2 separate regions of the Homo sapiens genome follow, and region 1 is linked to region 2. The links come from fine-mapping of genetic effects on gene expression. A gene starts in region 2. The other region holds a variant in brackets. All regions are shown on one strand. Distances are from middle to middle. Region 1 holds the start of AP5S1 (adaptor related protein complex 5 subunit sigma 1). Region 2 holds the start of CDC25B (cell division cycle 25B).

Evidence for each region.
Region 1: its variant is fine-mapped to the expression of CDC25B in monocytes (Fairfax 2014, PIP 0.95).

Annotation. Positions count from the first base shown.
Region 1 is chr20:3,817,521-3,833,902 of GRCh38, forward strand. AP5S1 (adaptor related protein complex 5 subunit sigma 1) reads left to right here and starts at 3,027. Exons shown (of 3, transcript NM_018347.3): 1 at 3,027-3,238; 2 at 4,582-4,773; 3 at 6,351-11,318. The coding sequence starts at 4,598. The coding sequence ends at 6,777. RefSeq lists a silencer at 2,551-2,830 and enhancers at 2,827-3,530, 3,071-3,410, 13,456-13,956. The variant C/CAAAAAA (reference allele first, on the strand shown) is at 7,411.
Region 2 is chr20:3,788,372-3,804,753 of GRCh38, forward strand. It overlaps CDC25B (cell division cycle 25B), which reads left to right and starts at 7,939. Exons shown (of 16, transcript NM_021873.4): 1 at 7,939-8,360; 2 at 9,251-9,378; 3 at 10,041-10,092; 4 at 11,917-11,958; 5 at 12,091-12,127; 6 at 12,372-12,494; 7 at 12,600-12,722; 8 at 12,883-13,017; 9 at 13,351-13,431; 10 at 13,553-13,729; 11 at 13,910-14,005; 12 at 14,539-14,601; 13 at 14,737-14,835; 14 at 15,033-15,166; 1 more. The coding sequence starts at 8,161. RefSeq lists enhancers at 6,935-7,666, 7,577-7,736, 11,091-11,385, 13,466-14,665 and silencers at 7,967-8,036, 8,077-8,256, 8,323-8,530, 12,131-12,425.

The DNA.
Region 1 (16,382 bases), 29 kb after region 2:
CTGGGATAACCACCATTCTGACTTGTAACAGTGCAGCATGGCTTGCCTAGATTTGGACCTTTTATGTTAATGGAGTCACATGGCATGTACACTTCTGTGACTGGCTTCTTTCACTGAACATTGTGTCTGTGAGAGTCACTCATGTTGTGTATCAGTAGTTGTTCTTTTCCATTGCCCTATACTATTCCACTGTACGAGTATACCACAATTTATCCATCATTCCATAACTGATGGATATTTGGGTAGTTTCCAGTTTGGGACAATTAAGAGTAAAGATACTGGCCAGGGGCGGTGGCTCATGCCTGTAATCCCAGCACTTTGGGAGGCCAAGGCGGGCAGGAGTTCATGAGGCCAGGAGTTCGAGACCAGCCTGGCCAACATGGCGAAACCCCGTCTCTAATGAAAATACAAAAATTAGACAGACGTGGTGGCAGGTGCCTGTAACCCCAGCTACTCGGGAGGCTAAGGCAGGAGAATCGCTTGAATCCAGGAGGCAAAGGTTGCAGTGAGCCGAGATCGTGCCACTGCACTCCAGCCTGGGTGACAAGAGCAAGACTCCATCTCAAAAAAAAAAAAAAAAAAAAAAAAAGAGCAAAGATACTATGAATATTCTATTTGTGTCTTTTGGTGAACAACAGCCCTTATTTCACTCAGGTACACATCAAGAGTGGCGCTGCTGGGTCATGGAGCAGTGAGGTCAGCATGAGTAGCCACTGCTGGGCTTGCTGTTTTAGATGATGTCTGAGCTAGCAGGCATAGACATTCCCAATGTACCCAGAACAGACTCTCAGAAGCATGGGTTGGACCCAGGAGAGCCCAGTGGCCAAGGAAAAGGGATCTCCCAGGGCACACCCACAAGCAGCCTCCAGCAAAACCATCAAGCAAAACCCCCACTCCCAGTAGGCTGAGGAAGCCCTCCATGCTGTCACCTCCATCTGGGTCTCCCACTGTCCTCTGGGAGTAGTAGCTCAAGCCAGCCTCCCACAGCTGTCTCCTCCACACACCTCACATGAGGCCAGCCCTCTAGTGGTCAGAAACTTGGTGTTGACTCACTGCCTGAGGAGTGGACAGAGGCTGGGAAACTGTGTTCCAGATGCCAGGTGGCCCCCAGCAACCAGAGCCCTCTCCTTGCTAGCTCTCTGCTGTAATCAGCTGGCAGACACCAGCCCTGGCTGAGAGCAATAGGGACTGGGGACCAGGAGCTGTGCCAACATCACTCCCCAGCCTCGTAGCTGAGGCCCCACAGTCTCTGGGCTTGCCGCAACACCTGCACACACATTTACGTGTTGTCACATGCTTTGGCCAGGCCCTGGCCACCTGCAGCTTCCCTTCAGTCACCTCCTAACCTATCCTGGGTCCTATGGCTTAAGGGGCCCAGAGTGCACTTTCTCAGGGGGTGCTGGCTCTAGGATCCCTGCCTGGGCCACCCTACCCTGTTCTCCTTTCTTGTCACCAAAGAGCGTGTTCAAGCCGGCTCCAGTCCTGTGTTGTGCATGGCCCTGGGGAGTGGAGATGGAAGCCATCAGCACTATTGGTGAGACCTGATTCACAGGGGTGCAAAGGCCGCAGCTGAATGCCAACGGGCAGCCTGAGCAGGAAGGCTTCCTCCCATTTTGTCTGAGTATATATCTACAAGGTCAATTAAAAGGACAGGAAAGGCCAGGCGTGGAGACTCACGCCTGTAATCCTAGCAATTTGTGGGGGAGAAGCGGGAGGATCACTTGAGCCCAGAGTTCAAGACCAGCCTGGGCAATACAGTGAGACGCTAACTCTACAAAAAAATTTAAAGTAGCTGGATGTGTTGCCTGCCTATAGTCCCAGCTACTTGGGGGGCTGAGGTAGGAGCATTGCTGATGGGAGCGGGCAGCGAGGCTGCAAAAAAAAAAAAAAAAAAAAAAAAAGCCGGGAAAGGGAATTCTAGGCTGGGGGAACAGTCAGTGGGGGAGGCTCCGAGGCACATTTGGGGGACAAGGCTGAAGCCATTCACATGCCAAGAGGTAAAGGAGGTGCAGCTTCATGGTCGCGGTGGGGGTGGTAGTGGTGGTGGTGGCTGGAGGAACACATGCAAGTCAGGCAGTGAGGCCCAGGCAGGCCTTGTGGGGCCCCCAAACACCAATGGGCCAAGCCTCCAAGTTGGGGCTTTTACGTAAGGCTCTATAGGGGTTAGCGCCAGAGTGCCCCTTTCAGGTTTAAGGTATAAACCTCTTCCCTGTTGTTTTGATGGCCTCCAGTCAAGAAGGGGGCTTGCTGGTCAGCCCTACTAAGCGTTCGCCCTGGGCGACACTCTACAAGGTTTTACTGGGGCCCAATGAAATTGACAGATCTGCCAGGGACACACACTGAGAGTCCAGAAGCAGCGTTCGAATCGTTCTGCGCCGAACCGAGTGACAGCATTAAACCGCTGCAGGAACCCACAAATTCAGAATCTGCGCAAAATACACATATTTGTATTTAAAATCCGCGCAAAATACCCATGTGCCTAAATACACATATTTCCCTCCAAAGTCATAATTTCCGGGGGTACAGCCCAGGAATGTACATTTGAACTGGTGCCCCAGTGATTCTCACGCATGTTGGCTAGATAAGAACTCAGCCGCAGCCCGTAGCTGCGCGGCCCGGCCTAGGTCCACCCGCCGCCCGTCCCGGAGCCTCCTAAGGCCGCAGGCGACGCGCCCCGCCCTCCGGGGACAACTAGGCCCCGGCCTTTTCCGCAGACTCCGCGCTCCGAGCCGCGGCGCCCCCTCGCGGCCGCCGGGGTCGGCAGCCTGGGGCTCCGCTGATCTAGGGCAACGAGCGGGGGACGCTTCGAGCCCGCAGCGAGAGTGACCAGCATGGTCCCTGCCGGCAGCTCGGGGCCGGAGGGTTTTGACTGCAAGGCCAGCCCACGCCGAGGGTCCAAGCATCGGGATATGCCGCCAGCACCTGGCTGCTGCAGCACCGCGCTGGACATGAGCGCTCCGCCCAACCCGACGGCGTCAGCTGGCGCGCGCGCCCGCGACCGACGTGCGCAGGCGCCCACGGGCCGCGCAGCCGCCATTGCTCTCCTGCCACGGAGGGGAGCGCTTGGTGGCAGTCCGCGGGCCCGGACGGAAGGCTGAGGCGACGCCTCGACGACAGCGGACCGGAGCTGCAGGGGCAACACATTCAGGGCGGGGTGCCCCATTTAGGCCTGGCTGACCGGAGTAAGAAACTACAACCCCCGAAGTGCCTTGCGCCTCAAGGTTACGGAGGCAGTGACGTAAGCTGTCTTGACCGCTACCATTTCTCTAGTAGAGGCGGGACGCGGCGGCGCGGAGTGATGACGCGCTCTGCTGGCGGCTGGAGGGTTGCGGAGGTCAGCAATTGGGTGCTGGGCTCCGGTTCTCGAAGTGCCTTTGCGAACCTGCTATTTTACCAGTTTAAACTGACGGTCTGTTTAGCCTTAGCTACAGATACCCACTGACTGTGTACCCGCCGCCTTTCAACCCCCGGGCCGGCCACTGAGCCAGCCAGATAACCATTACTATTATTTAGTTTCTATTTTGAAACAGTTTCAGGTAACTCCTGTATGCACTTGGATGAGATTCACAAGTTGTAACCTCATTTGCCCCATTTACCTTATTATTTCCTCTGTTTTTCTCTCTGCCTTTTTTCTTCCCTGGACCAAGTGAGTTAGTTGCAGATATGAAATCCTGTTTCCTCTATATTTAGAGGCCCATCCGTGTTTATTTTCTAAAAACAAGGACGAGCTCCTGCATTCAAAATCGGGTAACATTGGTCAAGACTTTTTCTGACCCATAGTCCATATTGAAATGTTTTTAAAGTTTTTATTAGTGTCCTAATAATGCCCTTTATGGAAATTATCCTTTTGTTTTTCTTTCTTTTTTTTTGAGACAAGAGTTTCCCTCTGTCGCCCAGGCTGAAGTGCAGTGGTGCGATCTCGGCTCACTGCAGCCTCCCCTCCCGGGTTCAAGCGATTCTGTGGCTTCAGCCTCTCAAGTAGCTGGGGTTACAACCATGCGCCACCATGCCCGGCTAATTTATTTTTAGTAGAGATGAGGTTTCACCATGTTGGCAGGCTGGTCTGGAACTCCTGACCTCAAGTGATCCGCCCACCTAGACCTCCCAAGGTGCTGGGATTACAGGCGTGAGTCACCACACCTGGCCCAAATTACCCTTTTCTTGGTCCAGGACCCGATCCAGGAGTACACGTCGCATTCAGCTATCTGGTCTCTTCAGTCTCCTTCGGTCTGGAGCAGCTCCTCAGGTTTTCCATGACCGCATGACCTTGACGCTTTTGAAGATACCTGTTGTTTTGTAGAACTAGGTTTAGGGTGGTCTGAGATTTTTTTTGTTTGTTTGTTTGTTTTTCTTTTTTCTTTTTTTTTTTTTTTAGTTTATGCCTATTCTGCTTATGTATGTCTGAGATTTTTTATCACTGGATTCTGTTATGTGATGTTGTTCAGATGCTGTTATTCAAAGTGTTCAGCCTCACTGGCCTCTGGATACACTCCCAGACACTGCCAGGTCAGCCCCTTCCTGTGGTCGCCTCTCCTGCTGGGGTTCACTCTCACCTTACCAATGTCTCTGGCTTCCCTGTAGCACCCACCCTGGAGCCATGGTCCACGCCTTCCTCATTCACACCTTGAGGGCCCCGAATACTGAGGACACGGGCCTTTGCCGAGTGCTGTACTCCTGCGTCTTCGGTGCTGAGAAGTCACCTGATGACCCACGGCCGCATGGTGCCGAGAGGGACAGGCTTCTCCGGAAGGAACAGATTTTAGCTGTGGCCAGGTAACCACACAGCCCAGCCCCAGGCCTTCATTGAACACGTACCTGATTGTAATAGGTATTTTCGGGGAGTGGGGACGCAGAGAAATAGGAGGACTAAGAAGCAGAGAGGAAGTTTTAGAGTAGCATTTCCCAGAGAGTCTTCCACAGCTTTTCATAAGTGTTACGTGAAAAGGGTTAAATAAATAATAATTCTGTTATCATTATTAGTATAATTAGCATTTGTTCAGCCTGTAAGTGCTAAGCATTTATATTCTGAACATCTTATATATATTAACTCATTTAATCCTCATAATAGTCTTTTGAGGTAGGTATAGTTATTATCTCCACCTTATAGATGAGTAAACTGAGGTATAGAGTGTTTGAGGAATTTAACCTGTCCAAGGTTACATAGCTAGAAAGTAGCAGAACTAAGATTTGAGAGTAGGCAGGCAGACAGTACAGATTAAACATGCTTTTCAGTGCAGTACTTAACAGGGCCTTTAGTGTGCCTGTAGACTTTATGAATTTCTAACGAAGAGAGAGGATGTGGTACATGAGGACTCCAGAAAGCCAGGGATCCAGATCACAGTTTGGAATATACTGTTCCAGACTAGGGTGGCTAGCCTTGGCTCTTCCCCTCTCAGACCCAGCCAGAACTGGTAGGTGCTGGAGCCTCCTGGACCTCCGCATTCTGGGTGGGGTAGCACCACTCTGGGGCAACCTTCTGCCAACTCCTGCCTTTCCCTTGTTCTTCTTATTCTCCTTCCCCTCCCTGTAGCTCAGAAAACCAAATACATGCCTTTAAAACCAGCCTGTGCGTGGCTCAGACTGGAAGGTGATTCAGGAAAGATCAAAGGGAGCTTCTAAGAAGCCTTGTTGGTCCAATGGAAGGTCTTTCTTTCATATTTGGAGAGGGTTGCAGGATAGGGTGGAGATTGGACTGCCCACGTTGGGTGATGGCGTTTATTTTCTGCCTCATCCCTTTCCTTTTTTTGAGATGGAGTCTTGCTCTGTCGCCCAGGCTGGAGTGCAGTGGCGCAATCTTGGCTCACTGCAACCTCCGCCTCCTGGGTTCATGCCATTCTCCTGCCTCAGCCTCCCGAGTAGCTGGGACTACAGGCGCCCGCCACCACGCCTGGCTAATTTTTTTAAATATTTTTAGTAGAGACGGGGTTTCACTATGTTAGCCAGGATGGTCTCGATCTCCTGACCTCGTGATCCGCCCGCCTCGGCCTCCCAAAGTGCTGGGATTACAGGCTTGAGCCACCGCGCCTGGCCAAGCCGCTTCCCTTTCCTTTATGTGGAGAAGGCCTCTGTGAAGCAGGTGAGGGCAGGATCTTCTTCCTCTGGTGCCCTTTTTCAGCCCAAGGAGCTGGGTTGAAAACCTGCCCTCTTGGCCACATGGAATAAAGTGGTTCAGGACCTGGAGGCTCACACTTCCTGATTCTGTGGCCCTGGGCAGATCACTTAGTCTCTCTAGGCCTCAGTTTTCTCACTTGAGATATGGGGATGATGGTAGCTCCCAGCACCAGGGTTGATCATGAGGATGACAGAGTTGGTGTGTGAGCCCACCAGCCTGACCTGCCCACTCTCCCCAGGCAGGTAGAGTCAATGTGTCGGCTGCAGCAGCAGGCATCTGGCCGGCCCCCCATGGACCTGCAGCCGCAATCCTCAGATGAGCAAGTGCCGCTGCACGAGGCCCCACGTGGGGCTTTCCGCCTGGCAGCAGAGAACCCTTTCCAGGAGCCACGGACGGTGGTGTGGCTGGGCGTGCTCTCGTTAGGCTTTGCCCTGGTGCTGGATGCCCATGAGAACCTGCTACTGGCTGAGGGCACGCTCCGGCTGCTGACACGCCTCCTCCTTGACCACCTCCGGCTGCTGGCGCCCAGCACCAGCCTTCTGCTGCGGGCTGACCGCATTGAGGGCATCCTCACCCGCTTCCTGCCACATGGTCAGCTGCTTTTCCTCAACGACCAGTTTGTCCAAGGCCTGGAGAAGGAATTCAGTGCCGCTTGGCCCCGCTGATTCCTCGTTGGGATGGTGCTTCTGAGGGCAGGCAGAGGGTAGACACACAGCCAGATGAAGCTTGGCATCTCCCTCCTACCCAGCAGCTCTGATGTGCTGCTATACCAGGACAAGTGGGTGACACAAGCCTGCAGAAAGGGGGCTGGGCAGAGGGTGGAGGAGGTCCTGCCTGTCCTCAGGTTAGTGGAACCACAGAACTTCCTGAGCCTAGAGCTGCTGTGTTACTTAGACCGCTGCCGTGCGGCAGCCACGCTTGTCCTTGAACCCACCTTCCTCCATCCCTGCCAGCCGATAGTGCTAGGGTGAGGAGCTGCCTGGAGCTCACCCCGCTCTTCTTCCAAACCCACAGTCAAGGCCAGGCGCGGTGGCTCACGCCTGTAATCCCAGCACTTTGCGGGGCTGAGGTGGTTGGACCACCTCAGGTCGGGAGTTCAAGACCAGCCTGGCCAACATAGTGAAACCCCATCTCTACTAAAAATACAAAAATTAGCTGGGTGTATGGCGCCCACCTGTAATCCTAGCTGCTCAGGGGGCTGAGTCATGGGAATCACTTGAACCTGGGAGGCAGAGTTTGCAGTGAGCCGAGAGTGCGCCACTTCACTCCAGCCTGGGCAACAGAGTGAGACTCCATCT[C/CAAAAAA]AAAAAAAAAAAAAAAATCCCACAGTCATCGAAACACAAAAGGGGTCTCAGACTCCCCTGAGGGTGGAGGAGCTGTGCCTGCATGCTGGCAGGCCACAGCCCCTGGCTTTGTGCCCACTTAGGCAGTATTATCAACAAGGTCCTGCTCAGTGTCCAGCCCCCGCTGAGTTCAGAAATGCATCTGCCAATCAGCAGCAGGATTCTGCAGCTCCTTTTGTGCCAAGCCCGTTCCCACCAGGCAGGCTCGAGATAAAGTCATCACAGCCTTCCCTCATCTGCAGGGAGAGAAGTTGCTGTCAGATGAATGTGAGCAGTCTAGCCTGGATGACATATTTTTCGTTTTGAATTAAAAGCACTGGCTGTGTGATTTTACCCTCTTTCTGTGAGTTTGATGCGTGCATCCTGCTCCTATGAGTGAGTGCCTCTCTGGATGGCCCCAAAGCTGCGTGTCTGAGCTTTCGTGGTCAAGGATCCCCCTAGGAGGCTTCTTGGGATGCCTCCATCTCTCATCCCCACCTCACCTCTGTCTCCTTAGAGGCCTCCTTTGGATGGTGGCACACATTTCTCCACCAAAGTATATGTCACAGGTGGCAGGTGGCTGTGGCAGAGCCGTCTGAGAAGCAGTGCTTGGGCTGAGAATTGGTGCGAGTGGTTTATGTGGGGTGGGCGGTGATCCCGGGAAGCAGGAAGGGGACACAGTCCTCGTGAATGCTTGTCAAGCCTATTAGGACTGTGGTAGGGAGCTGAGTGCCTCTAGGGGGCTGCACACAGCAGTTGCCTCTGAATTACCTCACCTGAGAGGTGGCGGCTGTGGGTGTTTGCCTACTGCCTTTAGTCAGTGGTTACAGGTTGATCCCAGGGTGCATACATTCCCTGGCTCTTTCTGCCCCTGAGAAAAAGCCTTCAGGCAATGTGGAGCTGGGCCTGCCTGCACCATGTTGAGTCCCAAAGGGATATGGGTGGGGTACCAAAAGTCGGTGGTTAGGAGGTCTTCAATCAGCAGCTTCTAGTGAAGGTTTAAACTTACTCAGTTGGGGGCGGGGGGTGGGGGAAAAACCACTTCAGTTTACATTGATTTTCATGATCTTCCTGTTACCAAGGAAGGTGAGGCTTTCTTGGCAGAACGAGCCTCCTAGGTGCTCAGCTCTCATGCTTGCCATCCATCAGTTGCCCTTTAGCATCCAGGATGGACCCAACTACACCCACTTTGGAGGCAGCACTGATGATTAGCCCTTCCAAGTCCATGGCCAAGGCCACCAGCCATGCCAGGCCTTCTACCACCACTGTCAACATAATTGGGATGAGGCCACCTTTTCCATTTTATGGTGCCACAAACCACCTTGACCATGAAGACCTAAAGGGATGTTACTCTGTGTGTGTGGCCAAGTCCCACCAGTGGAAATGTCCCACAGGCCTCTAGTAGGGACACCCCTTCCCTATACATTCTGTTCTCCTGGCCCACCCCTCACCCCAGGCTGGCGGTCCTGGTGGATTGGCTGTGTTCTCAGGGAACAGGCCATTTTGTCCTCTATGGAAAGGCTCAAGCTTACTGATCTGAATTCTTTCTGCCTTTTTTTCAAACGGAACTTAAGGAAGAGGTTGAGACTCTGCTCCCCTGGGAGCTGTGGGAAGTTGAGGTTAGGCGTGGCTGGTGGCCTGGTTCTCATGAGGTGGGGCAAACTGATGGACAAGAGAATAGTAGAGACTGAGACCACACCGTGGGGCTGCTGAGCTCCAGTTCCTGTCCAGCTGGACCAGGGTTTTCTTAACCAGATGAGCTTGCCCAGCACCCTTCCCACACTTCACACTTCTGCCCCAGCCTCTTGGGCTGGGTTTCCACCACAATTTATGCTCACCATATATTTATCGAGCCTCCCTTGGGCCTGATGCTCTGCTGGGTGCAATGCAGGATACAGAATGACCCCAAAGTTCCAGGAGAGACAGAGCTAAGGCCAGGTGACTGCAGATGACTGCAAAGCAGCAATGGTTTGAGCATCCCTGAATTGCTGCTCACAAGTGCTTTAAACACCTAAAGGAAGAAGGGGCACTTCAGTGACGAAGGCCAAGTGAAGGAGCCAGGATTTAGAACTAAAAGTGAGATGGCTATGGAAGCAAACTTGCCTCCCTCTCCAAGCCTCTTCCCTTTCTTCTCCCTGCCCCAGGAACCCTGGCCAAACCACATATCCCTCAGCTTCTTGAGAGAACTAGAGACTTTGAGCAGCTAGTAGTGTTACCAGTGTACCTCCACAAACACTCCTGGGACAACAGATGATGACAGGAGGGCAGTAGAGCCCAGAGAAGAGAGCTTACCTGGAAGGAGGAAGAAGTCACAGGTTTTGTTTTGTTTTGTTTTAGGCGGAGTTTCTCTTTGTTGCCCAGGCTGGAGTGCAGTGGCGCAATCTCGGCTCATTGCAAGCTCCGCCTCCCAGATTCACGCCATTCTGTCTCAGCCTCCCAAGTAGCTGGGACTACAGGTGCCTGCCACCACGTCCGGTTAAGTTTTTCTATTTTTAGTAGAGACGGGGTTTCACCGTGTTAGCCAGGTTGGTCTACATCTCCTGACCTTGTGATCCGCCCGCCGTGGCCTCTCAAAGTACCGGGATTATAGGCGTGAGCCACCACGACTGACTGGCATGAAGTCACAGGTTTTAAGGCAGGAACTGGCCTGCATGTATGTGGGTCACTGATTGGGTCACATACACTGCATGTATGTGAGCCCTGGGATGGGATTGGATCATCTTGTCTCCTTTAGGGCAGGGTGTTTTTTTCTAGCCCTGTGGTGCTGCGCACTGTCCAGCATCCCCCCAGGGCTCAATGTTTTCTTTTCTTTTTCTTTTTTTTTTTTTTTTGAGATGGAGTCTCACTCTGTTGCTCAGGCTGGAGTGCAGTGGTGCAATCTTGGCTCACTGCAACCTCTGCCTCCTGGGTTCAAGCAATTCTACCGCCTCAGCCTCCCAAGTAGCTGGGATTACAAGCATGTGCCACCATGCCTGGCTAATTTTTGTATCTTTAGTAGAGACAGGGTTTCACCGTGTTGGCCAGGCTGGTCTCGAACTCCTTACCTCAGGTGATCCACCCATATTGGCCTCCCAAAGTGCTGAGATTACAGGTGTGAGCCACCATGCCTGGCCTCAATCTTTTCTTTTAAACAATTATTCCTATATTTTATTGTAATGCAGTTAACCGTGTTTGTCAGATTCAATACTCTGTGACCCGTTAACCAAGTCTCTGTATGTTTATTACTGCAATTCAAGTGGCCGTGACCGTTTTCTTAAATATACTTTATTTGTTTAGTGCAATTTTAGGTTCACAGTAAAACTGAGCAGAGGGTACAGAGAGTTCTCATTTACTCCCTGTCCCCACACATGCACAGCCTCCCTTATCACCAACACTGGGCACCAGAGTGGTCATTTGTTACAACTGATGGACCTTCATTGACACGTCACTATCACCAGAGTCCATAGTTTACATTAGGGTTCACTCTTGGGGTGGTACATTCTATAGGTTTGGATGTATTTTCAGTGACATGCATCTACCATTATAGTATCATACAGAAGAGTTTCCCTGCCCGAACAGTCCTCTGCTGCACCTGTTCATTCTTCCCTCCCCTCAACCCCTAGCAACCATTGATCCTTTTACTGCTTCCATAGTTTTGCCTTTTCCAGAATGTTGTGTAGTTAGATTCATACTGTATATGTAGCCTTTTCAGATTGACTTCCTTCACTTAGTAATGTACATTTAAGATTCCTTCAAGTCTTTTCATGGCTGAATCATGAGCTTGACAGCTCATTTTGGAAGTACTGCTGAATAGTATTCCATTATGTGGATGTACATTATCTGTTCACCTACTGAAGGACATCTTGGTTGCTTCCAAGTTTTGGCAATTATGAATACAACTGCTACAAACATTTGTGTACAGGTTTTTGTGTGAACATAAGTTTTCAACTCCTTTGGGAGTATAAATACTCATAAATACCAAGGAATATGAGTCCTGGATTCTGTGGTAAGAGTATGTTTCATTTTGTAAGAAACTGCCAAACTGTCTTCAAAAGTGGCTGTACCATTTTGCATTCCTGTTGGCAGTTAATGAGGGTTTCTGTTGCTCTACATCCTCTGAAACATTTGGTTTCGTCACTGTTTTGGTTTTGGCCCATTCTTTTTTTTTTTTTTTTTCCTGAGACGGAGTGTCCTTTGTCATCCAGACTGGAGTGCAGTGGCACTATCTCGCCTCACTGCAACCTTGACTGCCCAGGTTCAAGCAATTCTCCTGCCTCAGCTTCCCGAGTAGCTGGGATTACAGGCGTGTGCCACCACGCCTGGCTGATTTTTTTTTTTTTTTTTCTGAGACAGAGTCTCGCTCTGTCATCCAGGCTGGAGTGCAGTGGCACAATCTCCACTCACTGCGACCTCCGCCTCCCGGGTTCAAACCATTCTTCTGCCTCAGCCTCCTGAATAGCTGGGACTACAGGCACACGCCACCGCGCCTGGCTGATTTTTGTATTTTTAGAAGAGAGAGGGTTTCACCATATTGGCCAGGCTGGTCTCAAACTCCTGACCTGAAGTCATCTGCCTGCTTCAGCCTCCCAGAGTGCTGGGATTACAGGCATGAGCCTCTGCACCCGGCTGGCTTTTGGCCATTCTAATAGGTATGTAGTGAAATCTTGTTTTAATTTGCAGTTCCCTAATAACATGACGTAGAGTATCTTTCCTATGCTTACTTGCCATCTGTAAATCTTTAGTGAGGTGTCTGTTCAAGTCTTTTGCCCATTTTAAAACAGGCAACTTGTTTGGGTGATTTCTTTTTGTTGAGTTTTAAGAGTTCTTTGTGTATTTTGGATAACAGCTCTTTATCAGATATACCTTTTGCAAATATTTTCTCCCAGTCTGTGGCTTGTCTTCTCATTCTCTTGACAGTGTCTTTCACAAAGCAGAGCTTTTTAAATTTAATGAAGTCCAGTTTCATATAATTTAATGAAGTGGGCCGGGCGAGGTGGCTCATGAGGCCTGTAATCCCAGCACTTTGGGAGGCCAAGGCAGGAGGATTGCTTGAGCCCAGGAGTTCGAAACCAGCCTGTACAACATAGAGACTTCATCTCTACAAAAAAATATAAAAATTGGCTGAGTGTGGTGCACACCTGTGGTCCCAGCTACTTGGGAGGCTGAGGTCGAAGGATTGCTTAAGCCCAGGAGGTCAAGGCTGCACTGACCTGTGACTGTGCCACTGCACTCCAGCCTGGGTGACAGAGCAAGACTTTGTTTCCAAAAAAAAAAAAAAAAAATTAATGAAGTTTGTCAATTTTTTTTTTTTTTTTTTTTGAGACGGAGTTTCTCTCTTGTTGCCCAGGTTGGAGTGCAATGGTGCAATCTCGGCTCGCCACAACCTCGCCTCCCGGGTTCAAGCAATTCCCCTGCCTCAGCCTCCTGAGTAGCTGGGATTACAGGCATGTGCCACCACCCTTGGCTAATTTTGTATTTTTCGTAGAGACAGGGTTTCTCCATGTTGGTTAGGCTGGTCTCGAACTCCCGACCTCAGGTGATCCACCCGCCTCGGCCTCCCAAAGTGCTGGGATTACAGGCGTGAGCCACCATGCCCAGCTCTTTGTCAATTTTTTAAATGGATCCTGCCTTTACTGTTGTATTTAAAAAGTCATCACCAATCCAATATCATCTAGATTTTCTCCTATGTTATCTACTAGAAGTTTTACAGTTTTGCATTTTACATTTAGGTCTATGATCCATTTTGAGTTCATTTTTGTGAAGGGTGTAAGGTCTATGTGTAGATTCATGTTTTTGCATGTGGATGTTCAGTTGTTCCAACATAATCTCTTGAAAAGAGTCTTTCTATCTTTGTTCCATTGTATTGCTTTTACTCCTTTGTCAGAGACCAGTTGACTGTATTAATGTGGGTCTCTCCTGGGTTCTTTATTCTGTTCCATTAATCTGTTTGTCTATTCTTTTGCCAATACTACACTATTTTTTTTTTTTTTTTTTTTTGAGATGGAGTCTCACTCTTACCCAGCCTGGAGTGTAATGGTGCAATCTTGGCTCACTGCAACCTCCACCTTCCAGGTTCAAGCCACCCTCCCGCCTTAGCCTCCCTAGTAGCTGGGACTATAGGCATGCACCACCATGCCTGGCTAATTTTTCTATTTTTGTTAGAGATGGGATTTCACCGTGTTGGCCAGGCTGGTCTCAAACTCCTGACCTCTGGTAATCTGCCCACCTCAGCCTCACAAAATGCTGGGATTATAGGCATGAGCCACTGTGCCTGGCCACCACACTATCTTTTTTCAAGGTTTTTTTTTTTTTTTTTTTTTTTTTTCTGAGAGAGAGTCTCACTCTGTCGCCCAGGCTGGAGTGCAGTGGCGCAATCTCGGCTCACTGCAAGCTCCGCCTCCCAGCTTTACGCCATTCTCCCGCCTCAGGCTCCTGAGTAGCTGGGACTACAGGCGCCCGCCACCACACCTGGCTAATTTTGTTTTTGTATTTTTAGCAGAGACGGGGTTTCACCGTATTAGCCAGGATGGTCTTGATCTCCTGACCTTGTGATCTGCCCGCCTCGGCCTCCCAAAGTGCTGGGATTACAGGCGTGAGCCACTGCACCTGGCCCACTATCTTGATTACTGTAACTTTATAGTAAGTCTTGAAGTCAGGCAGTGTCAATCTTTAACTTTTTTCTTCATATATATATATCTATATATATATGTGTGTGTGTGGTGTGTGTGTGTGTGTGTGTATATATATATATATTTTTTTTTTTTTTTTTTTTTGGAGACAAGGTCTTTACTCTGTCACCCAGGCTACAGTACAGTAGTGTGATCACAGCTCACTGCAGCCTGGACCTCCCTGGCTAAGTGATCTTCCCACCACAGGCATGCACCACCACACCCAGCTAAATTTTAAATATTTAGTAGAGACAGGGTCTTGCTATGTTGTCCAAGCTGGCCTTCAACTCCTGAGCTCAAGCAATCCTCCCACCTTGGCCTTCCAAAGTGGGTAATGTGGTTTTAATATCAGATTGCACTTGGCTGGGCACAGTGGCTCATGCCTATAATCCCAGCACTTTGGGAGGCCAAGGTGGGTAGATCATCTGAGGTCAGGAATCCGAGACCAGCCTGGCCAACATGGCAGAAACCGTGTCTCTACTAAAAATACAAAAATTAGCCAGGAGTGGTGGTACATGCCTATAATCCCAGCTACTTGGGAGGCTGAGGCAGGAGAATCATTTGAACCTGGGAGGTGGAGGTCCAGTGAGCTGAGATCATGCCACTGCACTTCAGCCTGGGTGACAGAGTGAAACTGTCTCAAAAAAAAAAAAAAAAAAAAGCTGGGCGTAGTGGCTTACTCCTGTAATCCCAGCACTTTGAGAGGCTGAGGCGGGCGGATCACAAGGTGAGGAGATCGAGACCATCCTGGTTAACACAGTGAAACCCCGTGTCTACTAAAAATACAAAAAAATTAGCTGGGTGTGGTGGTGAGCGCCTGTAGTCCCAGCTACTCGGGAGGCTGAGGCAGGAGAATGGCATGAACCCGGGAGGCGGAGCTTGCGGTGAGCCGAGATCGCGCCACTGTACTCCAGCCTGGGCAACAGAGTGAAACTCTGTCTCAAAAAAAAAAAAAACAAAAAAAAACAAAAAAAAAACATTGCACTTGCTGATTGCTTGTATAAGTGAAAGCAATTGACTTTTTTTTCTTTTTTGAGACAGGGTCTCACTCTGTTGCCCAAGCTGGAGTGCAGTGGCGCAGTCTTGGCTCACTGCAGCCTGTGCCTTCTGGGCTCAAGTGATCCCCCCACCTCAGCCTCCCAAGTAGCTGAGATTACAGATGTGCACCACTATGCCCAGCTAAATTTTTGTGTTTTTAGTAGAGACGAGGTTTCACTATGTTGGCCAGTCTGGTCTCAAAATCCTGATCTCAAGTGATCCACCCACCTTGGCCTCCCAAAGTGCTGGGATTACAGGCGTGAGCCATCGTGCCTGGGCACCATTTTTTTCCTTTTTTTTGAGACGGAGTCTCGCTCTGTTGCCCAGGCTGGAGTGCAGTGCCACCATCTCAGCTCACTGCAACCTCCACCTCCCGGGTTCAAGCGATTCTCCTGCCTCAGCCTCCCGAGTAGCTGGTACTACAGGTGCGCACCACCATGCCCAGCTAATTTTTGTATTTTTAATAGACACGGGGTTTCACCATGTTGGCCAGGATGGTCTCAATCTCTTGACCCAGTGATCCACCCACCTCAGCCTCCCAAAATGCTGGGATTACAGGTGTGAATCACCACACCCGGCTGAGTTTTTCTTTTTTTAATAGAGATAAGGTCTTCCTACAGGGAGGTTGCCAAGGCTAATCTCAAACTCCTGGACTCAATAGATCCGCCTGCCTTGACCTCTCAAAGTGCAGGAATTACAGGCATGAGCCACTTCGTCCAGCTTAGCAATTGACTTTTGTATATTAATGTTGTGTCTTGCAATCTTGCTGTAATGCTTATTCGTTCCAAGAGTTTTTGTTGGTTTGTTTTTGTTGATTCTTTCAGATTTTCTACATTAGCTAGGACTTTTGGTACAACATTGAAAATGAGTTGTTAGGACATTATTGCCTTGTTCCTGACCTTAGTGGGAAAGCTTCCAGTTTCTCACCATTAAGTATGATTTTTGTAAATGTTCTTTATCAACTTGTGAAGTTCTCTTATTTCCTAGTTTGTTGAGAGTTTTTATTGTAAATGGTGGTTGGACTTTGCCACATGCTTTTTCTGCTTTTATTGGTATGATAATGCAATTTTACATCGTTAGCCTGTCAATGTAATTGATTATCTTAATTGATTTTCAAATGTTGAACTAGCCTCACATACCTGGAATAAATCCCGCTTGGTCATTTTGAGTAATTATTTTTATACATTACTGGATTTGATTTGCTACTATTTTGTTGAGGAGTTTTGCATCTATGTTCACAAGAGATACTGGTCTGTAGTTTCCTTGCTT
Region 2 (16,382 bases):
GAGCTCTTTACATGCTCTGAAGAAAAGATCTTGTTAAGTATGTTGCAAATGTTTTCTCCCTGTCTGCCACTTGTCTAAGTTAGTTTAGGGAATCTTTTGGATATGAGAAGTTTTTAATCTTCAACCTGTCAATTTTTTCCTTATTGCTTCGGGGTTTTGTGTCTTACTTAGAGAGGACTTCCCTATCCCTGAGATATAAAAGATATTCTTTTAATCTCAAGGTCCAAAAGAACACGTGGGAGACTTTTCCAGAGCACTGCTTGGCCCAAGAGGAGTGTGTGGTCACTGGGCAAAAATGAATCTAAGATTACCTGGATGAGAACTCCTTGCCATGCATCTTTTCTTTCTTTCCTCTCTTTCATCCTTTTCCTTGTTTCTTTCCTTCCTTCCTTCCCTTCTTTCTTTCTCTTTCTCTCTTTTCCTTCCTTTCCTTCTTTCTTTCCTTCCTTCCTTCCCTTCTTTCTTTCTCTTTCTCTCTTTTCCTTCCTTTCCTTCTTTCTTTCCTTCCTTCCTTTCTCTTCCTTTCCTTTCCTTTCCTGTGGCCCCTCCTTAGTGCCATACAAAGGGCATTGGCACAATTACTTCTAGGACAGAAAAGCCACGCCCATCATATGCTGATGTCATAGCCATTTCCAGATACCTCGTCTACCCTTTGCCTGTAGCAGTGCACGGGGCCCATTTCCATCCCCTCTCAAGTGACCATTTCCCCCAGCAATCCATCTGAGGCCCCGGGCTTCCCCACCTCTTTCTGTAAGTCCCAGCTTTCTGCTTTTAGGACTGTTTGGGAAATCCATAACTCACCTTCTCTTCTTTTGGTCCAGCCTGCCCAGAGCTGTCCTTCAGGCCCCTCAGCAAGCTTTCCATTCTCCTTTTGTTTATTTGAGACAGGGTCTAGCTCTGTCACCCAGGACGGAGTACAGTTGCACGATCATAGTTCATTGCAGCCTCAGTCTCCTCAGTAGCTAGGACTACAGGCATGAGGCACCATGCCTGGCTAATTTTTAATTTTTTTTTTTGAGACGGAGTCTCACTGTGTTGCCCAGGCTGGGAGTGCAGTGGCGTGATCTCAGCTCACTGCAACCTCCTCCTCCCTGGTTCAAGCAATTCTCCTGCTTCAGCCTCCTGAGTAGCTGGGATCACAGGTGTACACCACCATACCTGGCTTAGTTTTGTATTTTTAGTACAGACAGGGTTTCACCATGTTGGCCAGGCTAGTCTCAAACTCCTGACCTCAAGTGATCTGCCTACCTTGGCCTCCCAAAGTACTAGGATTGCAGCCGTGAGCCACCTCACCCGGCCAAAAAATAATAATAAATAATAAAAATAAAGAGAACAACATTGGGCGCGGTGGCTCATGCCTGTAATCCCAGCACTTTGGGAGGCCGAGGTGGGCAGATTACGAGGTCAGGAGATCGAGATCATCCTGGCTAACACGGTGGAACCCCGTCTCTATTAAAAATACAAAAAATTAGCCGGGCATGGTGGCGGGCGCCTGTAGTCCGAGCTACTCAGGAGGCTGAGGCAGGAGAGTGGCGTGAACCCGGGAGGTGGAGCTTGCAGTGAGCGGAGATCGCGCCACTGCACTCCAGCCTGGGCGACAGAGCAAGACTCTGTCTCAAAAAAAAAAAAAATTAGCTAGGCATAGTGCCTTGCGCCTGTAGTCCTAGCTCCTAGGGAGGCTGGGGTGGGCCGGAGGATCACCTGAGCCCAGGAGCATGAGGCTGCAATGAACTATGATTGCACCACTGCATTACAGCTTGGGTAACAAACTTTGTTTTGAAAGAAAGGAGGAAAAAGAAAGAAGGAAAGAAGGAAGGAAAGAAAAGGCAGAGATTGCAGTGAGCCGAGATTACGGCACTGTACTCTAACCTGGGTGACAGAGTGAGACTCTGTCTCAAAAAAAAAAAAGGTTTTATTAAGATATATTTCAAGAAGCATACAATTCACCCATTTAAAGTGTACAGTTCACAGATGTGCTCAACTGTCACCACAGTCCATTTTGGAATTTTTTTTTTTTTTTTTTTTGAGACCAAGTCTCACTCTGTCGCCCAGGCTGGAGTGCAGTGGCTCAATCTCGGCTCACTTCAACTTCAACCTCCGCCTCCCAGGTTCAAGAAACTCTGTCTCAAAAAAAAAAAAAAAAGATTTGCTTAAAAGTTAACATCTCGGGCTGGGCACGGTGGCTCACGCCTGTAATCCCAGCATTTTGGGAGGCCGAGGCGGGTGGATCACGAGGTCACCCAGGCTAGAGTGCAATGGTGCAATGTCAGCTCACTGCAACCTCTGCCTCGTAGGTTCAGTCATTTCTCCTGCTCAGCCTCCCAAGTAGCTAGGATTATAGGCGCCAACTACTATACCTGGCTAATTTTTGTATTTTTAGTAGAGACAGGGTTTCACCATATTGGCCAGGCTGGTCTCAAACTCCTGACCTCAGGTGATCCACCTGCCTGGGCCTCCCAAAGTGCTGGGATTACAGGCGTGAGCCACCGCACCTGGCCTAATTTTTGTATTTTTTGTAGAGACAGAGTTTCACCATGTTGCCCAGGCTGGTCTCGAACTCCTGAGCTCAAGCGAGTCTTCCTCCTTAGCCTCCCAAAGTGCTGGGATTATAGGCATGAGCCACCACCCACACTTCTTTTACTCTAGGAAACTTGTTCAGAAGTCCATTTGCTATGATCTCAACATGTAGTCTTTCAATAATGAGCCCCTACCAAGCAGGCATCCCCACCTGACTGCCCGTTCTCCTTAAAGGTTGCATGTATTGCACAGTGCAAAGGAATCACCTCCCCTATTGAAGACAATAACTCAACGAACATACATCTGTGTGTACTTTTATCATCTCCTTAAGAGAAATGCTGAGAAGTGGGATATTAGGGTCAGGGGCCAACTTTGGTCTTGAACCAAAGTTCTGGGAGCAAGGTTCTGGGAGCCTGGGAGAGAGGTAAATGATTTAGTCCTTGTCCTTCAATAGTCCAGTCAGCTTGAGATGAGATTCAAGAAAGGGAAAAGGAGATTTCAATACTTAATGCTACTGGGTGTGGTGGCTCATGCCTGTAATCCCAGCACTTTTGGAGACTGAGGCTGGTGGATCGCTTAAGCCCAGGAGTTCAAGACCAGCCTGGGGAACATGACAAAACCCAGTCTCTCCAAAAAATACAAAAATGTGCCAAGCATAGTGGGATGCGCCTGTAGTCACAGCTACTTGGGAGGCTGAGGTGGGAGGATTGCTTGAACTCAGGAGACAGATGTTGCAGTGAGCCGAGATTTAACACTGCCCTCCAGCCTGGGTGACGGAGAGACTTGGACTCAAAACAAAAACAGAAAACAAACTAAATGCTGTGCCTCCCATCAGTTCCTCCCTAGGAATTCATCTTGTAGATAGCACACAGACACATAAGGGCATACTTACTGCATCGTTGTAAAAGCTAATATCCTAAATGTTCAGCATTAGGGGCTTGAGTAAATATATATTGTTATGGTACTAATATGGATCCATCTCCAAGTAAGAAGAAGAAAGGTATAGAACAGTGGTTTTTATTTTTATTTATTTATTTATTTTTGAGACAGAATCTCACTTTGTCACCCAGGCTGGAGTGCAGTGGCACGATCTTGGCTCACTGCAACCTCCGCCTCCTGGATTCAGGTGATTCTCCTGCCTCAGACTCCCAAGTAGCTGGGATTACAGGCACATGCCACCATGCCTGGCTAATTTTTGTATTTTTAGTAGAGACAGGGTTTCACCATGTTGCCCAGGCTGATCTTGAACTCCTGACTTCAGGTGATCCACCTACCTTGGCCTCCCAAAGTACTGGGATTACAGGTGTGAGCCAGCATGCCAGCCTAGAACAATGTTCATATGCTGTTTGTATATTCTTTAAAATACAGACGGATTTACGCTTGTAAAGATATAGACCTGCAGCCACTAACCCTAAGTGGCCATTGAACTATTAATTTATTTATTTTATGTTTAGAATCAAAGTCTCACTCTGTTGCCCAGGCTGGAGTGCAGTGGTGGAATTATGGCTCACTGCAGACTCAAACTCCTGGGCTCAAGCTATCCTCCTACCTCAGCCTCCAGAGTCACTTGGATTTTTTGTTTGTTTGTCTGTTTTTGAGACGGAGTCTTGCTCTTTTCGCCCAGGCTGGAGTGCAATGGCATGATCTAGGCTCACTGCAACCTCCGCCTCCCAGGTTCAAGCGATTCTCCTGCCTCAGCCTCCCGAGTAGCTGGGATTTCAGGTCGGTGCCACCAGGCCAAACTAATGTATGTATTTTTAGTAGAGACAGGTTTTCACCATGTCGGCCAGGCTGGTCTCAAACTCCTGACCTTGTGATCCACCTGCCTCGGCCTCCCAAAGTGCTGGGATTACAGGTGTGAGCCACCGTGCCCAGCGAGTCACTTGGATTATAGGCAGGGGCCACCACACCGGGCTAAGTTTTTAAAAAATGTTTTGTAGAGACAAGGTTTCACCATATTGCCCAGGCTGGTCTTGAATTACTAGCCTCAGGCAATTGTCCTGCAGCAGGCTCTGGAGTTGCTGGGATTATAGGTGTGAGCCACAGTGCCAGCACTATTGAGCCCTTTAAATGTTGCAAGTACAAATTGAGATGTGCTGGGGGTGTAAAATGCATACTAGTTTGAAGACTTGATATCCAAAAATGTAAAATATCTCATTAATTTATATTGATAACATGTCGAATAATATTTTGAATACATTACATTGAATAAAATATTACAGTAATTTCATGTTTCTTTTTTACTGTTTTAAATGTGGCTACTAGAATATTTTAAATTATGTATGTGGGCCAGGCGCAGTGGCTCACGCCTGTAATCCTAGCACTTTGGGAGGCCGAGGTGGGTGGATCACCTGAGGTCAGGAGTTCGAGACCAGCCTGGCCAATATGGCAAAACCCTGTCTCTACTGAAAATACAAAATTGGCCAGGAATGGTGGCGGGCACCTGTAATCCCAGGTACTCGAGAGGCTGAGGCAGGAAAATCGCTTGAACCCAGGAGGCAGAGGTTGCAGTGAGCCGAGATCATGCCACTGCACTCCAGCCTGGGCGACAGGGCGAGACTCCATCTCAAACAAACAAACAAAAAAACCCAGAACCCCTCTGTGGTCTTGCCCACCTCCCCCCTCACTGGCCCAGAGGTGACCTGACTGTGGGATTTCTGTTTTTTTTTTTTTGGTTTTAGAGAATTTTATTTTATTTTATTTTATTTTTTTATTTTATTATTATTATACTTTAAGTTTTAGGGTACATGTGCACAATGTGCAGGTTAGTTACATATGTATACATGTGCCATGCTGGTGTGCTACACCCATTAACTCGTCATTTAGCATTAGGTATATCTCCTAATGCTATCCCTCCCCCCTCCCCCCACCCCACAACAGTCCCCAGAGTGTGATGTTCCCCTTCCTGTGTCCATGTGTTCTCATTGTTCAATTCCCACCTATGAGTAGAATATGCGGTGTTTGGTTTTTTGTTCTTGCGATAGTTTACTGAGAATGATTATTTCCAATTTCATCCATGTCCCTACAAAGGACATGAACTCATCATTTTTTATGGCTGCATAGTATTCCATGGTGTATATGTGCCACATTTTCTTAATCCAGTCTATCATTGTTGGACATTTGGGTTGGTTCCAAGTCTTTGCTATTGTGAATAGTGCCGCAATAAACATACATGTGCATGTGTCTTTATAGCAGCATGATTTATAATCCTTTGGGTATATACCCAGTAATGGGATGGCTGGGTCAAATGGTATTTCTAGTTCTAGATCCCTGAGGAATCGCCACACTGACTTCCACAAGGGTTGAACTAGTTTACAGTCCCACCAGCGGTGTAAAAGTGTTCCTATTTCTCCACATCCTCTCCAGCACCTGTTGTTTCCTGACTTTTTAATGATTGCCATTCTAACTGGTGTGAGATGGTATCTCATTGTGGTTTTGATTTGCATTTCTCTGATGGCCAGTGATGATGAGCATTTTTTCATGTGTTTTTTGACTGTGGGATTTCAAGGGATTCAATAGTATAATGCCTGCCCTGCCACATACACCCTGTGCAGATGTATATTGGCTGGGTGGGGGGTGGGGGGGATACCTGTTGTGTTTATTTTGAAAATGCAAATCTCGGGGCAGTTTTTTTTTTCTGGTTTTTGGGCTGGGTGGCTTTACAAGGACACTTCCCCCTTCCCTCCTGGCACTAAGGGCAGTCACATCCTCACTGGAAGTAGTGGCTGGAGGTCCAGGGCATAACCCCTGACCCAGGGAGGATGAACCGGAAATTCAGTCTTGCAGAGCCCTCTGCACAGCACAGGAGCTGGGCAAAATTTGGAGAAAAGGAAAGGTCACGTTCCCACCTTGGCCACCCCTCTCAGGTGGGGCTGGGGTCTTCCCCTACCCTTCAGATGCATTGGCCCACCCAGCCCCCCATCACCAGGCCCTCCCTTTTGCCACCCCCATCCAATGCACCTTGGGTCTGGGTGGCTGGGACTGCACGAGAAGGGGTACTCCTGCCTTGCTGAGCTGCAGCCCGCCCCCCGCACCACCACCCGCCCAGCCAGAGGCCACTTCTAACCTGGGGAGACAGGATGCGAAAGCTGCTCACTACCCACCGGCTTTTGGGTGCAGCCTTCAGGCCTCTTGTTCCAGGAGGCCTGGAAAACGAGCGGGGCTGGAAGGCATTTAGATAATTGGAAGATGGGCCGGGCACAGTGGCTCGTGCGTGTAATCCCAGCACTTTGGGAGGCCTAGGTGGGTGGATCACGAGGTCAGGAGTTCGAGACCAGCCTGGCCAATATGGTGAAACCCCCGTCTCTACTAAAAATACAAACATTAGCTGGGCGTGGTGGCGCGCTCCTGTAGTCTCAGCTACTCGGGAGGCTGAGGCAGAAGAATCGCTGGAACCCGGGTGGCGGAGGTTGTAGTGAGCAGAGATGGCCACTGCACTCCAGCCGGGTTGACAGAGGGAGACTCCATCCCAAAAAAAACAAAACAAAACAAAAAGAAAGATAATTGGAAGCTGCTCCGCTTAAAACGAATGACAAATTCAGCCTCCCTGGTCTGGTCATCAAAGAAACACCAATTAAATAATATGGTGCCATTGGCACCAAGTTAGCCAAATCATCAATGGGCGTGATACTTAATTCGCCTCTCTGGTTGCTGACACCCTCCTCGACCCCCAGCCGCGGAAATCCATTCCTAGTTCCACCGTTTAGAGCCTCTCCTGGGGCTGCCGCGAAAATTGGGCCGGTTGGGGTAACATCTAACCTGGGGTCCCGCGAAAGAGCCCATCAGTTCCGCTTGGGGGCCCCACTGCCCTCCCACCTCCTACGCTGGGCGCTTCTCCTGCGAATGACGTTTTGCTGCTGCTCAGCGCAGCCAGTCGCGGAGGCGGGGAGGCTGCGCGGTCAGAGGCGCCTGGAGCGAGCGAATCCTGGCCCACCGCCTGCCCAACCGCGTGACCTTGATTGAGTTAATGAACTTCACGCCTCAGCGTCCAGGTCTGTAAAATGGGGTGTCTAACGCAGACCGTACAGCCCAGCTGGGTTTAGCAAACTTCCGGGAGCCAGTTGGAGCCTCTCCCCATCCCTAGCGGTGATCCCAGGTGACGACATGCCGCGGGGGGTCCTGCGGAGGCCACCCTAGGGCGTTGCTGCTGCCTTTGGGAGTGTGGAGCTCCAAACCATGTCGCGAGAGGCGGATTTTGGGAGGCCGGGATCCTCGCGCCAGGGGGATGTGCGAGGGTGTGGGATAAATCTTAATTCCTCCGGCCCACCCAAAGCCTGGAAATCCAGCCTCCGCGCCTCTTGCCCTGCGGGCCCCGCCCTCAGTCCCGCCCTCATCTAACCCGCTACCCCATTGGTGGCGTCCGGCGGCGCGGCTGCTGTTATTTTTCGAATATATAAGGAGGTGGAAGTGGCAGCTGCAACTAGAGGCTTCCCTGGCTGGTGCCTGAGCCCGGCGTCCCTCGCCCCCCGCCCTCCCCGCATCCCTCTCCTCCCTCGCGCCTGGCCCTGTGGCTCTTCCTCCCTCCCTCCTTCCCCCCCCCCCCACCCCTCGCCCGCTGCCTCCCTCGGCCCAGCCAGCTGTGCCGGCGTTTGTTGGCTGCCCTGCGCCCGGCCCTCCAGCCAGCCTTCTGCCGGCCCCGCCGCGATGGAGGTGCCCCAGCCGGAGCCCGCGCCAGGCTCGGCTCTCAGTCCAGCAGGCGTGTGCGGTGGCGCCCAGCGTCCGGGCCACCTCCCGGGCCTCCTGCTGGGATCTCATGGCCTCCTGGGGTCCCCGGTGCGGGCGGCCGCTTCCTCGCCGGTCACCACCCTCACCCAGACCATGCACGACCTCGCCGGGCTCGGCAGGTAGGACACCCCAAGGAGGCTGCATATGGGGGTGAGAGGCTAGGTCTGGAGTCCTGGGCCTCCTGGAGAACTGGGCATGGTAGTCGAATCCAGGAGGTGGAGTCCGGGGAGGCATCCTGAGCAGTGGAGAGGTACGCCCTTGTTCCCTCCTAGGGGCCCAGGACATGGGAAGTGAGACCTGGGCTGTGCCCCCCACACCTCCAGGTGACCTGCTCTCAGTCTGCACAAGCCTCTCCAAATCTTCTTTCCCCTCACTCCCTCCTCCCTCATTGTGCCTCCACCACGCTGCCTCCGTAATCTCTGCCCGGATAGCCACCATTTTGCCCCAGGATGGGAATCTCAAGCCTGGAGAGGGAACTTAAGGGTGGCAGAGCCGTGGAGCACTCACACATCCATGCCCCTGCTCCCTCCACCCCAGTTCTGCCCCCAGAATTAAGACAATTAATTAAACACTGATCCTGCTCCCTAAGTCTGCAAGGGGAGAGCTGGGTTGTTCCAGTAGGAGAACCTGGTCTTGGTCCATCCTTCAGGAAGGGTCCTGGAAAGGTGGGGGTCTGACAGTTTAGGGGAAGGCTCTCTGGGGCGGCTCTGCTAGACCACCAACCCTTAGGCTGGCCTCCAGCCAGGCAGCCTTGCTCACACCCTGGGCTCACCTTGCCCTGCTCCTGAGAGGACCTTTCCTAAACCAGTCAACGAAGAGAAGACGCTTTAGGGCCTCTGTAGAATGAACCTTCCTTGACCTGAGAAGAGGGGGCCCTCAGGGCCATTGCTTTCCCGGTGTAGTGTTTCGCTCAGTTCTTTTCTCAGCAAGGGAGTGGGAACGTGGGCTAGCCAGGCCTTGAGCCCCACGTTTACCTTTCTCCTTTCCCGGGTCCCTGTTCCCTTCCCAGCGAAACCCCAAAGAGTCAGGTAGGGACCCTGCTCTTCCGCAGCCGCAGCCGCCTGACGCACCTATCCCTGTCTCGACGGGCATCCGAATCCTCCCTGTCGTCTGAATCCTCCGAATCTTCTGATGCAGGTGAGGCCCAGGGGAGCCTGGGGAGATCTGCCTGTGTCAGGAGAGTTTGTGGGGGCTGCCTGGGCCTCCCAATTTCCCTGCCGATCAAACTAACATCCTCCCCACAACCTGGTGGGCCCAGGAGCCTCTCCCCCACCCTCCACAGAAATGGGAGGAAGACACACCTCTTGTGGGGCTCACCACACCCAACGCGGACTGGCTGAGTGGATGAGAGGGTGGGGCCCTCTACGGAGATGAGATCTTACCTATGTAAAACCACGCTCCAGAGTTCCTAAACCACAACCCTACCTGGGAAGCACCCAGGGCTGAGAGTTGGTCTTTAAAACATTCTTAGCCTATAACCTCTTCTTTAAAAATCTGTTGTCTCTTCTAGAACAAATTATTTTAAACCAGTTCAAGAAAAATGCTTAGTGAGCATTGTGGTTTAAAGACGCATATGAAGGAATTTCCATAGTAAACAGGGAGTGGAGCCCTGTACCGTCTGGGGGACGATGTGTCAGCTCTCAGGGTCCATGGTTGGGTTTTTGTTTCATTTTCTAATGTGTCAAAGTCCAAACTAGAAACTGTTTTTTTTTTTTTTTTTTTTTTCATATTGGGACATGGTGGGGGAAAGAATACAGAAAGTGCCACTACTTTCAAACCAAGGTGCTCTGTCCCCTCAGGTCTCTGCATGGATTCCCCCAGCCCTATGGACCCCCACATGGCGGAGCAGACGTGAGTAGAGAAGGGAATGTGTACTTCCAAGCATTCAGCACCTGTCTTTAAGAATCCTAGTTCTACCATAAATTCACCCGGGAGGCCTGGGAAAGCAGACAGACCATGGGGTGGCTTCAGGATCCCCATGGCCGGGGGGCTCACTGACTTTCTCAGGCCTTGGCATTCTGCTCCCTGTCTCAGAGAAGGATCTGCTCTCATGGGAGCCAACCGAGTGTGGGCTCAGGGCCAGGGATAGTGGGGACAGTGGCCACTGGGAGAGCAGATACTAGACTACAGCCCATGTCTTGCAGGAATACAAGCCCAGCGTATGTCCCGTTTTTCTTTCTTGCCTATACCCATTTTTTTCTGTGAAATATTACAATTTAAAAATATGATCCAACTAATTCAAAACTTTAACTCACTCTAGGCCAAACAAAACACAGTTGCCTGCAGATTGATTTGGCTCTTGGCCGATCAGCAACCTCTGACTTCGATGACACTTTACCCTCTGGCCAGCCCTGGTCTAGGCCCTTTCTGCAAGGGAATGGAGAGAGAGTTGGTGGGCTCTGGCCTGGACAGACCATCCCCTTGGCTGTGGGCATGGGTGGTGTCTTCCAGAGCACAGCTGTTCCCATCCAGTTGTTAAAGCCCAAGCAGCGGGGCAGCTGCCAGCCATTAGTAGGGACAGCTGGGCATCTCTGGCCTGTGCTGGGGACTGTGGCTTTGGGTTTAGGATAGTGACTTGTCTTACCTCCCATTGCCTTTGATCAGACTGGGTTGGGCTGCAGATTGGTTCACAAACAGGAAATGGGGAGAGGATTGGGTGGGGTTGGGGGACTGCAGGTTGGTTTTGGTGGCAGCACAGAGCAATCTTGCCCTACCCCCAAGGCCCATGTGCAAGCCAATGAAATTGGTCATCCCTGATGCCAGGTTGGCTGGGCACAGCAGCCCCCCGGGGGGGCATCCCCCTCATACTTTATCCCTGAGTGGTTCCCTGCCCTGCACCTGCTCTGACAGTTATACAGAGTTTCTCAGAAGCTGTGTGTGTGTGTGTGTGTGTGTGTGTGTGTGTGTGTGTGTGCGCGCGCGCGCGTAGATGCACAAAAGCTCCGCGTGGCAGGTGGTCTCCTGTAACACGGCTGAGGGGGCGGGGCCTCAGAGGGAACATGTGTTGGAATTCCTTGCCTGCTGGCCTCTTCTAAGGCAGGAGGAGGGGGTGGGACAGAGGCTGGTCCTGGAAAATTCCATAGGAGGGAGGAGAGGATGTGAGCCTGCACGTTTGTCACTGGGGGTCTACTGTATCAGACTGGAGCTGACTGGGGGAGCCCTAAAGCAGGCCCCAGTCCTCAGAGGACCGGGAGCCAGGCCAGCTCCTCACAGGGGAGAGGAAGCCTAGCCTTGCTGTTGTCCAGGCCCTGGAGACACCCACATTGCTGGGTGCCCCTGGCCTATCATAGGATGGATGGATGCCTTTCCTGGCAGCCATATGGCCCCGCTGAGGTGATTTGCATACAGGTGGAAGGCCTGGTGCAGGCTGGCGAGACTGTTGCCTTGGTGACGCCTCCCTGACCCTGACCTGCCCCAGCTGTCTCTATCACTGCCATTCTCTGGGCTTTCTTTCATTCAGGGCAGCCTTTAAAATTCCAAGCTGCCTCTTATCTTCCCCCTCCCCAATACCTGGGCCCCCTGATGGTGGGCGTTCTTCCCACCCCACCCCTTCCACTGCCTTGAGCCTTGGCCCTTGTCTTTGCCCTTACTCCCCCCTGGACTGGGGGCCTGGTGCTGGGGTGGGTGATGGGTGCGGAGGGAGCATGGGTTGCATGGGACCCTTCTCTGTCCTAGGTTTGAACAGGCCATCCAGGCAGCCAGCCGGATCATTCGAAAGTAAGTGTTCCTGGGCCTCTTCCATCTACCACAAGCTTTCCCTTAGGACAGGGCTCCAGAAGGGCATGCTGCATGCTCTTGGTCCCTGCCCTGCCTCTCCCAGCTCTCACCTGTCCCCATTTCCTCCTGTAGCGAGCAGTTTGCCATCAGACGCTTCCAGTCTATGCCGGTGAGTGTCTTCGAGGCCTGACTGAGGCTTAGGCATGCTAGCCAGGCATGGGGTAGATGAGCAGGATGCATTCAGGGATCACCTCCCAGCTGGGTGTCCCCAGGCAGGCTGTAGGAGATGGGGTTTCAGAGGTAGGTAGGTAAGTGGGAGGAGCTGGAGGAGAGGTGGAGAAGGTAGGGCCTGGGCTCGTGCCGGAGGAATGCAGCCTTCATTCCTCTGCCTGCCGCCCTGCCTGGCTCTCTAGGTGAGGCTGCTGGGCCACAGCCCCGTGCTTCGGAACATCACCAACTCCCAGGCGCCCGACGGCCGGAGGAAGAGCGAGGCGGGCAGTGGAGCTGCCAGCAGCTCTGGGGAAGACAAGGAGAATGTGCGCTTCTGGAAGGCCGGGGTGGGAGCTCTCCGGGAAGAGGAGGGGGCATGCTGGGGTGGTTCCCTGGCATGTGAGGACCCTCCTCTCCCATCTTGGCTGCAGGATGGATTTGTCTTCAAGATGCCATGGAAGCCCACACATCCCAGCTCCACCCATGCTCTGGCAGAGTGGGCCAGCCGCAGGGAAGCCTTTGCCCAGAGACCCAGCTCGGCCCCCGACCTGATGGTACATCCAGAGAGCGGATCCCTGGGAGGGGCCTGGGGAGGCAGCCTCGGAGAAGAGGAGGGTGGCCCTGAACCCCCAGGCACTGGGAACTTTTCCTCAGGAGGATGGGGGCGGGAACTATCTCCACCTCTAAGTCTGTGTCTGTCTGTCATGTGGACAGTGTCTCAGTCCTGACCGGAAGATGGAAGTGGAGGAGCTCAGCCCCCTGGCCCTAGGTCGCTTCTCTCTGACCCCTGCAGAGGGGGATACTGAGGAAGATGATGGATTTGTGGACATCCTAGAGAGTGACTTAAAGGTAAACAGCCTTGTCCCACCAGGCCCCTACCTTCCTATCCCTGGGTTCGCCCAAAAGAAGAGAGCTCTGAGCCCTTGTGGCAGGACCATGATGTCATTCCAGTGTCAGAAGAAGAATCTGAGGTAACTGAGTCACAGCCTAACCTCTGGCCAATGAGAGAAGAACAGGTGGCTGGTGCCACAGTGGAGGGCGGTTTGGGAGGTAGGGGAGCTTCTCACCCCAACCTGGAGTTTGCCAGGGAAACAGGGAAGGCTGTGCTGGAGGATTCCGGGACTGGAGGGGTTTGGCCTATGCCTGTGGGTTGTGACCCTGTCCTTGCTAATCTGGCCTCAGGATGATGATGCAGTTCCCCCAGGCATGGAGAGTCTCATTAGTGCCCCACTGGTCAAGACCTTGGAAAAGGAAGAGGAAAAGGTGGGCCTCTGGGGTGGCCCCCTCCGAATTTGGAGGCATGGGGTCCATCCTACTCTCCAGTGGATTTGAGGGATGGGACGGGGCCTGGGCACCCTGATCCCTAACCTGCTGTCCCTGCCAGGACCTCGTCATGTACAGCAAGTGCCAGCGGCTCTTCCGCTCTCCGTCCATGCCCTGCAGCGTGATCCGGCCCATCCTCAAGAGGCTGGAGCGGCCCCAGGACAGGGACACGCCCGTGCAGAATAAGCGGAGGCGGAGCGTGACCCCTCCTGAGGAGCAGCAGGAGGCTGAGGAACCTGTGAGTGCCTTCCTCCTGGGGTTCACTTTGGCATGCACCTGGGCAGCCACCCCCTTGGCTAAGTTTGTGGCAGAGGGCAGGTGGCAGCCTGGGCATGGCAGAGAAAGGGGGTACCAGCCAGCCAGAGCACTGGGGGGCAGCCCCACCCTGACCCTGGCCTCCATCTGACTCACTTTCCAGAAAGCCCGCGTCCTCCGCTCAAAATCACTGTGTCACGATGAGATCGAGAACCTCCTGGACAGTGACCACCGAGAGCTGATTGGAGATTACTCTAAGGTACCTGCAGCAGCGAAGGGGGTACCTTGGGGGCTTGACCTCTTACTGACTAGGGGTCCTCTAGCCCAGGGGCTGCTTGGGTTCCTCCCTTTCTCCCCGGAGCCCCCCTTTTCTTTGTCCTTTGTATCTTTTCATCCTTTGTTCTCACATAGACTCCTCCCTCTGGCCCTCCTTGTCTCCTGACTCCACCTCAAGTCAGTCCAGGCATCTGTTGAGTCTCCGTCTTATTTCCAAGCTCATACCTAGCTTGGAACCCCCTCATGCCTCACCTTCGGGCTTGGCAGAGGGTAGGGAGCAGAGTGTGGAGTTCATCTCTTCCACTTCCCTTTTTCATTTCTCTTTCCCCTTGGAAGGTTGTTCCCTGGGTGTCAGACCCAAGAGGTGCCTCTCAGTTGCCATGGGAACCAGAACTGAATTTGAAGGCCAAAGCAGGTGTGGCCTCTGATTTTGGGAATGAAACTTCATTCTTTGAGGCTCCTGGTCTTACCAATTTAACTTTCTCCCCTCTCCCTCATCCCTTCCGTTCCCTTCAGGCCTTCCTCCTACAGACAGTAGACGGAAAGCACCAAGACCTCAAGTACATCTCACCAGAAACGGTAAACAGCGTTGCGTCATTTTCTAGGCAGATTTGGGACTGTAGCTCCATTGTTGACCTTCCCTGGGGACAGGCTAGGGCCACCTGCCAGCTGCCAGCCTGACCTGCCGGAACCAACCCCCATGACCTCCTACAGATGGTGGCCCTATTGACGGGCAAGTTCAGCAACATCGTGGATAAGTTTGTGATTGTAGACTGCAGATACCCCTATGAATATGAAGGCGGGCACATCAAGGTAAGATGGGGCAATGGGGAGAGGCCCTGAAGATCCCACCTGGTTTAGGTCCTTGCTTTGCCAAGAGGGTGAATGGGTGGAGGACGGGTGCCCCCTCTCATGGGGAGGGTTCCTACTAAGAGAAGGACAGCGACTGCACGGGGAGGGCCCTGACTCCTGGACCCGGGGCTGTGCCTGACCTCTGGCTCCTCTGACAGACTGCGGTGAACTTGCCCCTGGAACGCGACGCCGAGAGCTTCCTACTGAAGAGCCCCATCGCGCCCTGTAGCCTGGACAAGAGAGTCATCCTCATTTTCCACTGTGAATTCTCATCTGAGCGTGGGCCCCGCATGTGAGTCCCAGCTCCGCCCAGCCAGCTAGTGTCTGCCCTGGCCTTCCCTGCCCAGGCTCACAGGTGCTGGCACCATTGAGATGGCCAGGGGTGCAAGTCCAGGTCCTCCTCTGTCCCATCTGATGGCCTAGAGCTGACCTCAGCCCCACTTCACTGTGCATGGTACCCGCCTCCCATCTCCCTCACTGTCCTGCCTATCAAGCCTCATGTCCACCCCACATCCATTACTGCCACCCTCAGAAAATTTAGTTCCAAGTCTCTAGCGGTGTCTTTTCTCGAAATCTAAGGGCCGCGTGTCAGTCCCCAGTACACGGACCCTCCCCATGTTCAGTGCTGTTAGGTCTCCATTAGAACCTCTTCCATTGGCATCCACAGCACCTGGGCCTCCCTGGCTGAGCTCCTTCTGTCGCTATTCCTGTTCTGCCTGGCCATCTGTCCTCCCACCCCTGCCTCCTCCTGGGTTGCCACTGGTCCATATGACTGCTAGTGGCTCCCCAGCCTGGCCTCACCCATGTGGTGGGAATCTGCACCCAGACGCCCCTTACAGAGTCGCATCCCTGCGGCCCTCCCAACTTCTCCAGGCATCCCAGCATATGGCACCCACCTCCACCTGGGCACCGGGCCTGGGCACTGGCTTCAGTCTTGGGTCCTCCTCCTCCCTTCTCCCCACCACTGATCCTCACCAGGTCTTGTCCAGGAGTGGCCCGAATGGATCCCTTGAATTTGGCCCACTTGTCTCCTCTCCTGCTTCTCCTTTCCTGGTCCAGGCACAGATATCTCTAACAAAGATTGTGCAACTGCCTTCTAGAAACGGAGAGTTCATCCCCTTGATTTTACCTCCTTCCTTCCGCCTCCCCACCCTCTTCTGTAGCCAGAGTGACCTAAAAGTGTTCTTGTGGTTACATTCCTGTGCTCTAAAGCTTTCTGTGGCTCCCCAAGGCCCTCAAAGGAGGGGACGTGGGGGATAGGTCCCATGATGTACAAGCCACTGCATGCCCCACTCTGACCACACCCTGCCCATGACGCCCCAGGTGCCGTTTCATCAGGGAACGAGACCGTGCTGTCAACGACTACCCCAGCCTCTACTACCCTGAGATGTATATCCTGAAAGGCGGCTACAAGGAGTTCTTCCCTCAGCACCCGGTAGCGTGGGTGGGGAAGGCCACAGTCTCTGTGTGAGGGTTGGCTTGGCCAGGCTGGAGCCATGGGATGGGGG